2 linked regions of the Homo sapiens genome follow. The protein of the gene in region 2 interacts with the protein of the main gene of each other region in a biochemical or structural test. Each region holds a gene or a part of one and is shown on either strand. Other genes may lie near its edges. The genes, in order: PCK1 and INSIG2.

Evidence for each region.
Region 1: the proteins of INSIG2 (region 2) and PCK1 form a complex in vitro, tested with the Homo sapiens proteins (one study listed by BioGRID).

The regions. Positions count from the first base shown.
Region 1 is NC_000020.11:57,559,220-57,563,140, reverse strand, and holds the start of PCK1 (phosphoenolpyruvate carboxykinase, cytosolic [GTP]), read right to left. Parts: upstream 2,032-3,921; 5' UTR 1,938-2,031; intron 1,770-1,937; 5' UTR 1,730-1,769; coding exon 1,506-1,729; intron 1,071-1,505; coding exon 889-1,070; intron 446-888; coding exon 242-445; intron 114-241; coding exon 1-113. UniProt on the Homo sapiens protein: Cytosolic phosphoenolpyruvate carboxykinase that catalyzes the reversible decarboxylation and phosphorylation of oxaloacetate (OAA) and acts as the rate-limiting enzyme in gluconeogenesis.
Region 2 is NC_000002.12:118,091,228-118,095,148, reverse strand, and holds part of INSIG2 (insulin-induced gene 2 protein), read right to left. Parts: intron 1-3,921. UniProt on the Homo sapiens protein: Oxysterol-binding protein that mediates feedback control of cholesterol synthesis by controlling both endoplasmic reticulum to Golgi transport of SCAP and degradation of HMGCR.

The sequences.
Region 1 (3,921 bases), on a different chromosome or scaffold from region 2:
GAGCAGCGAGTTCCCGCCGTACCCACTGCCAAAGGAGATGATCTCTCTGCGGTCAGGCAGGTGGGCGATGAGCGTCAGCTCCGGGTTGCAGGGCCAGTTGTTGACCAAAGGCTCTGTGAACAAGGACCCCTCCCAAGTCAGTGCGCCAGGGCCCTGCTTGGGGGTCCCCGAGGCACTCACTGGGGTTTGCGTTCAGCTTTCTTTTTTATTTTGACTTTTGATTCTGAAATAATACACTTACTTTGTAAAGGCAGAGGGCACCCCACAGAATGGAGGCATTTGACAAACTCCCCATCGCCCACTGCTTCCAGGACGGGCGTGCCCATCCGCGTCATGATCCGCATGCTGGCCACCACGTAGGGTGAATCCGTCAGCTCGATGCCGATCTTTGACAGAGGCGAGCCCAGCGGCCCCATGCTGAATGGGATGACGTACATGGTGCGACCTACAGGGTGCGATGGGTGGGCACTGGTGAGAAATGACCTTGGACTTCGAACACGACCAGCATTTTTTTCCCAGGTAGACCCATTTTCACGGTGTTCCACTAACACCACCACACCCTGCTGGTCACCAGCCCCCTGGGTTAGAAGAGGCCACTGGAAAGTGAACAGCCTGCTGAAATTAAAGAGTTTTCATAAATGTGCAATTGGGTCCCACCAAGCTATTTAAAACCCATATGCATGGAACTAGTTTTCACGTTTGTATAAGACAGTCTGTAAAAGCAGAAGAGGGATGTGCATTTTCAATACATTGCCAACTTCATGTATGGAACTGAAAGACATCTGAGGTGGTGGGAGCTTCCATTATTGTTTGAATTACCATTAGGATAGATGTAAATAAGAAAAGGCTCTCTGCTGTTTTACCCAATCAAATCAATGTTCCGCTCACCTTTCATGCACCCTGGGAACCTGGCATTGAACGCTTTCTCAAAATCCTCCTCTGACATCCAGCGACCGAGCTGGCTGAGGCCTGTTTTGGGGATGGGCACTGTGTCTCTTTGCTCTTGGGTGACGATAACCGTCTTGCTTTCGATCCTGGCCACATCCCTGGGGTCAGTGAGAGCCAACCAGCTGCAAAAATCACAGGCTTCCTTTCAGCCAAGCACCACGGGCAGCGAACCATCTCCTTCAGTACCGTGGCTTTCCATGCCTAGCAGAGTGCTGAGCACGCTAACAACAGTCCATCAGTGTGAACACACAGACCATCTAAGACATGGCCAGGTGGACATTTACTCCACTAGGACCTGGTCTGTAGGAGAGGGGCTGCCTTTTTTTTAATCAGGAATCTAGTTGGCAGAGCTTTTGTGCACACACCTCATTTAAAGCTTGGGCTGGCCCACTAATGTCACAAAATTCAAGTCTGTATGGTTCTGACCATTGCATTCATCTTCTCAAGAGTCTGAAACTACCCGAAGGCCTTCATTCACCTTTCTCCACCAACTCCCAGGAGACGCAGGGGAGCCCTGCCTGCAGGGTGCTGGGACAGGCAGCGGGGGCCGAGCTTACCAGTTGTCATACTTCTTCAGCCGCCTGAGGATGCCCTCTTCCTCCATCTGGCCCAGAAGCCGCCCATTCTCCTCCTCAGAGCCGTCACAGATGTGGATGTGATCAGGCTGACACAGCTCAGCGTTATTCTCGAGAAACTCCCTCACTGCCTGGGGTAGGCTGTCCAGGCTTCCCTGGACAACTTTGGCCGAGAGGTTCAGGCCGTTTTGCAGCTGAGGAGGCATTTCTGCAGAGTGCTGCTAAGGGGCACGAATGTGAGGTCACCTGAAATAGAAAACGCAAGCGTCCTGAACAAAAACAACAACAGACACCTTCAAACACATTCGACGGCCTTTTGCCAGGGCTGTGCATTGCCAAATAGTTATTGCTCTCAGGAAAAAAATGAGTTCATCTTTGTAATTTTTCAAAATGTAAATGCAAAGCTCTACTTACCTTTCTTCTCTTTGGATGATCTCGAAGGGAGATCCACAGGTTTCTTTCCGGGCTCTTCCCGCCAGCAAGTTTGTGTTCCCAGTGGGAAGGCCGTGCTTGGTGGCAGAACCTCCCAGCTTTAAATACTGTGGAAAAGAATAGCCCTGCCCCTCAGCTGCACCCAGGGAGGCTCGCCACTGACGTCAGGGGGCAGGTCTCTGGATCACGGCCAGGGTCAGTTATGCTTTGGGCCAACTCACTGCAACACGCCCCAGGGAGATAATCATTGAACAGATAGTTGTTAATGAATGCTGGGAGACTTCGAGCCCTCAACCAACCATAGTGAGTTTTGACACAACTTCCAACTGACTAAACCTTGACCCATTTTACTGCTGTTGCAAAACACAACACCCTTTTCTTAACAGGCAGGTGGGTCAAGGACAAGGTTGGCCGGGGCACCTGCTAGCAGCACATTTTGTGTACCAAGAGCTGCTGGTTGGCAAAACACCACAGCTATAAGATGTCACCCCATAGTCAAAGGTCACAGTCAAAGTTCATGGGAAGGATGCACCCTAACTTGGGCAAATATGTGGCTTATTGGCAAAGATTGGAAATGCCTAACCTAACTGGGGGCTAATCACTGTATTGATTGTCTGCTCTGTGCCGCCCCCGCCCCCTGCCCCGATGTAAACTCCATGAGGGCAGGGATTTCTCCCTATTTTGTTCATTTTTCTCTCTGTAGTGCTTGGCATAGAGTAGGCACAGGATGCACACATGCTGAGCACTGTTCTAAGAGCTTGGCATCATTACTACCCTCTGAGGTGGAGGCTATGAACAACCCATGTACAGATAGGGAAACTGAGGCAGAGATTGTGTAGCCACTCACAGCCGGCTGGTGGGTTGCAGAGTGAGGATCTGAACATGAGCAAGTTGGGCCCTGGAGCACCACGTCTCTCCCTGTGAGGTACCGCCACCTTTCCAGAACCTTCCCTGTGTCCTCCAGGGAGTTCTGGGCTGAGTGCAGTTACTCCTGCAGTCCACTGGCCACTGTTCTCTTCCCTGGCAAGTCTTAGAGTTTAGGGAGTGGAGGGGGCTTGGCAGTTTTGCTAGATTATATGCTTAAGCAATGAAACCTTTATAACAGTTGTAAAGAATTTGCTTTGCAAGCCATCAGACCTTCAGTCAAATTTAATGAGCTATGGAAGCTGCTTGCTGGAGTTTGGAGAACACAGGGTGAAATGTCAAAAGAACGGGGCTAGGTCTCAACCCCCCACAGCCAGCCCACACTTCCATGGAAGCCTCTCTACCTAAGATGAGGTCAGGTGGGGACTTGGCCCATCTCCCCGCTGGGGTGTGGGATGATCCCTGAGATAATCCCAGGACTGGGCTTAGAAAGAGCTGCTGTGGCAAATACAAGTCACTGTGAATGGCAGCCTCCGACCAAACTCACTTAGAGAACCCTCCTGGGGGCTTGGGTCACACTGTGTTGGGCGTGGGTCACACATCATCAAGTTCCACCAAAATTATCAACCCATTGCTATGTTTCCTGTATTCAGATTTTATTCAGCCAGTTGTGTCTTTCAGGATAAATATGATATGAGGTGCTTTTTGTTTCATTTGAAGTTATTCCCCGTTTAGGTCACTGGCATTTGTTATTAGTGGTGCTGTCATCCATACATAAGATCGTGTTGTGTCTAAACCCAACAGTGACGTGATGCTCAGTAGCCGAGGCCACTTCGTTAGCATCTGACATCAGTGAATTAGCCATCCCGATGCATGACCACAATTCCGTGACACACACATCACTCCCGGCGAGACTCATCCCACCAAATTGGTAGAAAGTCCCATTTTGCTGATAAAACGGTAACAGGTTTGAGTACCTGAAAGAGCACATAGATTGAAAACAAAAAGGGAAAGCAGAACTCATTTGGAGTCCTAAATGCGACCCATCCATTCCAGGTGCTTATGTTCTGAGTCTTCTGGGAGAGAAACAGCTAGTTCAAGT
Region 2 (3,921 bases):
TGTAGCACTTATAATGACTACTTTCTAATTAAAGGTATAGTTGCTTTATGGATTGTAAATGTTTTATGAAGGTCTTATTCACTATTATATTAATATCACTGTGCCTATGCACCCAGAAAAGTTCCTGCTTAGCCCACAGTGGGAGCTCCACATAATCATATTTGCTTAATTAAATTGGGTTAACTCTTTCTGAATCAAACCATATAGGGTAAAGTAGGCCTTTTTGAGAGCAAACCTAGCTCCTAATCATCACATAAAATTTATACATTTCCTCTGAGTTTTCCAGTATCAAACAACCTTTGAATGAATTTTGGAACAAAGCCCTCATGTAAACCGCAGAGAATGGGGCTGAATTACAAATAACTAGTATGAAAATGAGAATATCTGTAAGTACTAGTAACCTCCACAACCTGTCAGTTCCATGTGATAAACACTTAGACAACGGGCCTTTTTACTGGGGCTATGCCACATCAAAGCTCTGTGTTCAACATTCAAGAGGAAATTCTGTTCCCAAGCTAGTCCTCACTGACCTACTTAGTCTATAATGTAATTGAACTCTATGGCTTAAAGGACTAAAAAAACTAATCCACAGTATAGCTAATTCATGGGAAAACATACTCTAAATACCAACTGAAAATGCCCTGAAACATCTCCTCCTGACCTGATCCTGCAGACCATTCCTTGCTGTGGAATCCAGGCATATGAGCATGCCATGCATTCTGGTTGCTTTCAGCAAGGTTCAGTAGCTACAGAACTCTCCATCATCATCATCATCATCATCTGGTTGCTTTTGGCAAGGTTCAGTAGCTACAGAACTCTCCTTCATCATCATCATCATCTGGTTGCTTTTGGCAAGGTTCAGTAGCTACAGAACTCTCCTTCATCATCATCATCATCATCATCATCATCATCATCTGGTTGCTTTTGGCAAGGTTCAGTAGCTACAGAACTCTCCTCCTCCTCCTCCTCATCATCATCATCATCTGGTTGCTTTTAGCAAGGTTCAGTAGCTACAGAACTCTCCTCCTCCTCCTCCTCCTCCTCATCATCATCATCATCTGGTTGCTTTCAGCAAGGTTCAGTAGCTACAGAACTCTCCATCATCATCATCATCATCATCATCATCATCATCATCATCTGGTTGCTTTTGGCAAGGTTCAGTAGCTACAGAACTCTCCTCCTCCTCCTCCTCCTCCTCCTCCTCCTCATCATCATCATCATCATCTGGTTGCTTTTAGCAAGGTTCAGTAGCTACAGAACTCTCCTCCTCCTCCTCCTCCTCCTCATCATCATCATCATCTGGTTGCTTTCAGCAAGGTTCAGTAGCTACAGAACTCTCCTTCATCATCATCAACATCATCATCTGGTTGCTTTTGGCAAGGTTCAGTAGCTACAGAACTCTCCTTCATCATCATCATCATCTGGTTGCTCTTGGCAAGGTTCAGTAGCTACAGAACTCTCCTCCTCCTCCTCCTCCTCCTCCTCATCATCATCATCTGGTTGCTTTTAGCAAGGTTCAGTAGCTACAGAACTCTCCTCCTCCTCCTCCTCCTCCTCATCATCATCATCATCTGGTTGCTTTCAGCAAGGTTCAGTAGCTACAGAACTCTCCATCATCATCATCATCATCATCATCATCATCATCATCATCTGGTTGCTTTTGGCAAGGTTCAGTAGCTACAGAACTCTCCTTCATCATCATCATCATCATCATCTGGTTGCTTTTGGCAAGGTTCAGTAGCTACAGAACTCTCCTTCATCATCATCATCATCATCATCATCATCTGGTTGCTTTTGGCAAGGTTCAGTAGCTACAGAACTCTCCTCCTCCTCCTCCTCCTCCTCCTCATCATCATCATCTGGTTGCTTTCAGCAAGGTTCAGTAGCTACAGAACTCTCCATCATCATCATCATCATCATCATCATCATCATCATCATCTGGTTGCTTTTGGCAAGGTTCAGTAGCTACAGAACTCTCCTTCATCATCATCATCATCATCATCTGGTTGCTTTTGGCAAGGTTCAGTAGCTACAGAACTCTCCTTCATCATCATCATCATCATCATCATCTGGTTGCTTTTGGCAAGGTTCAGTAGCTACAGAACTCTCCTCCTCCTCCTCCTCCTCCTCCTCATCATCATCATCTGGTTGCTTTTAGCAAGGTTCAGTAGCTACAGAACTCTCCTCCTCCTCCTCCTCCTCATCATCATCATAATCTGGTTGCTTTTAGCAAGGTTCAGTAGCTACAGAACTCTCCTCGTCCTCATCATCATCATCATCATCATCATCTGGTTGCTTTTAGCAAGGTTCAGTAGCTACAGAACTCTCCTCCTCATCATCATCATCATTATTCTTTATAGGGCACCCATTTATGGAAGGCCTACTCCCTGCCAGACATATAGTAACTCTACTCTTCAAAACAAACATAAAGGTAGACATTATCATCCTCATTTTACAGATGAGGCTACCAAGTCAAAGAGATTCAGCAATTTGCTTATGGTCACATGACATGCAGTATCAAAACTGAAATTCCACTTCAGGTCTGATTCCAAAACCCATCCTCTTGCCTCTATACCTTGAATTCCATTCCATCTCAACTGCTCAGACTTCTTTTTCGGCAGATGGTTCTATATAAAAGTGTTTGGTTACTGAAAAGATGGTTAGATGTTGAAATACCATCTCAACTATAATACACTCTCAGATAGTAAGCCAAAACAAGCAGGTGACTATACAATTGCACAAAGATGATGAGAATAAATGTAAAATCACCTTGAAATTTTCTTTAATAGTACTAGATCAAGGTGTGAAAATGTTTTAAAGTAAAAAGAAAAAATAGCAAACTAACACTCTGTATAAGAACATTAGTTGACTCTTTACTTCCCCAGATCCCAGTAGACACAGCACGTTGCCCTCACGTGCTGCTAACAGCTGCTAGAAGATGGGCATACTTTGAGTAACCCACATTGAGACAGCGTATCATTTGTTTCTGTTTGTGATTTTTCCAAAAGGGAATTAATGGAAAGGGGTATTTTATGTTTAATAGTATTTTTAAAAAGGAAAATAACTTCAGTTTAAAAAAGCTATTTCAGTCATGCTAGCCCCCATCTCACACTGACCAGCATTTGTCAAAGGGCACTGATATTTTAGGCAGGACAATTATTTGCTGTGTGAGACTGTTCTAAGCATTGCAAAACATTTAGCATCCCTGGCTCCCACCCACTAAATGCCCCCTCCCCTATTTGTGATAACCAAAACTGTCCCCACAATGAGAGCCACTGATTGCTACAGACTTCATTCTATTTCAAGACAGCTAGAGACTTTCTGTTTATTTATGTTTTCTACCACAGCTGCTTATTTAACCTTTCCTGGCAGTGCTTGTTTAGTTTTCTACTTCGCCCCAAAAGTTTTCCTTAAAAATAACACATTTGCTTGACATTTATTTGAATGAGATTCAAAAAGCTAATTTTGTAACTACATCATAATACAATAGTATATAATTACTGGTGACAAAAAATAAAAGCTTTAAGAAATAGCAGGGAACTGGGAAATCATCTATTCCAAGGGGTATGAGACCCCCATGCGAAACAAAACAAAAAAGTTGTATATATATGCATTTTTTTCTGGGATGAAAGTTCCATAATTTATATAAAGTACTCAAAAAAGTCCATGATCCAAACAAAGTAAAGAATCAGTAATCTAACAATTCTCTCACTCTATTAGCAAGGCCAATGACATGCAAAGTAGTCAACTGGATTAACAAGATTAAGACAGTACCATCAGTTCTTATTACCACAAACGTGTATAGTGAATGCCAGAAAATGACCAGACTCATCAAAGGGATAGAGGCGTCCACAAAACCATTTCACCCCCTACCATGCAACAATGAAATTCCTTTAAAAGCATGTTTATAATATCAGTTGC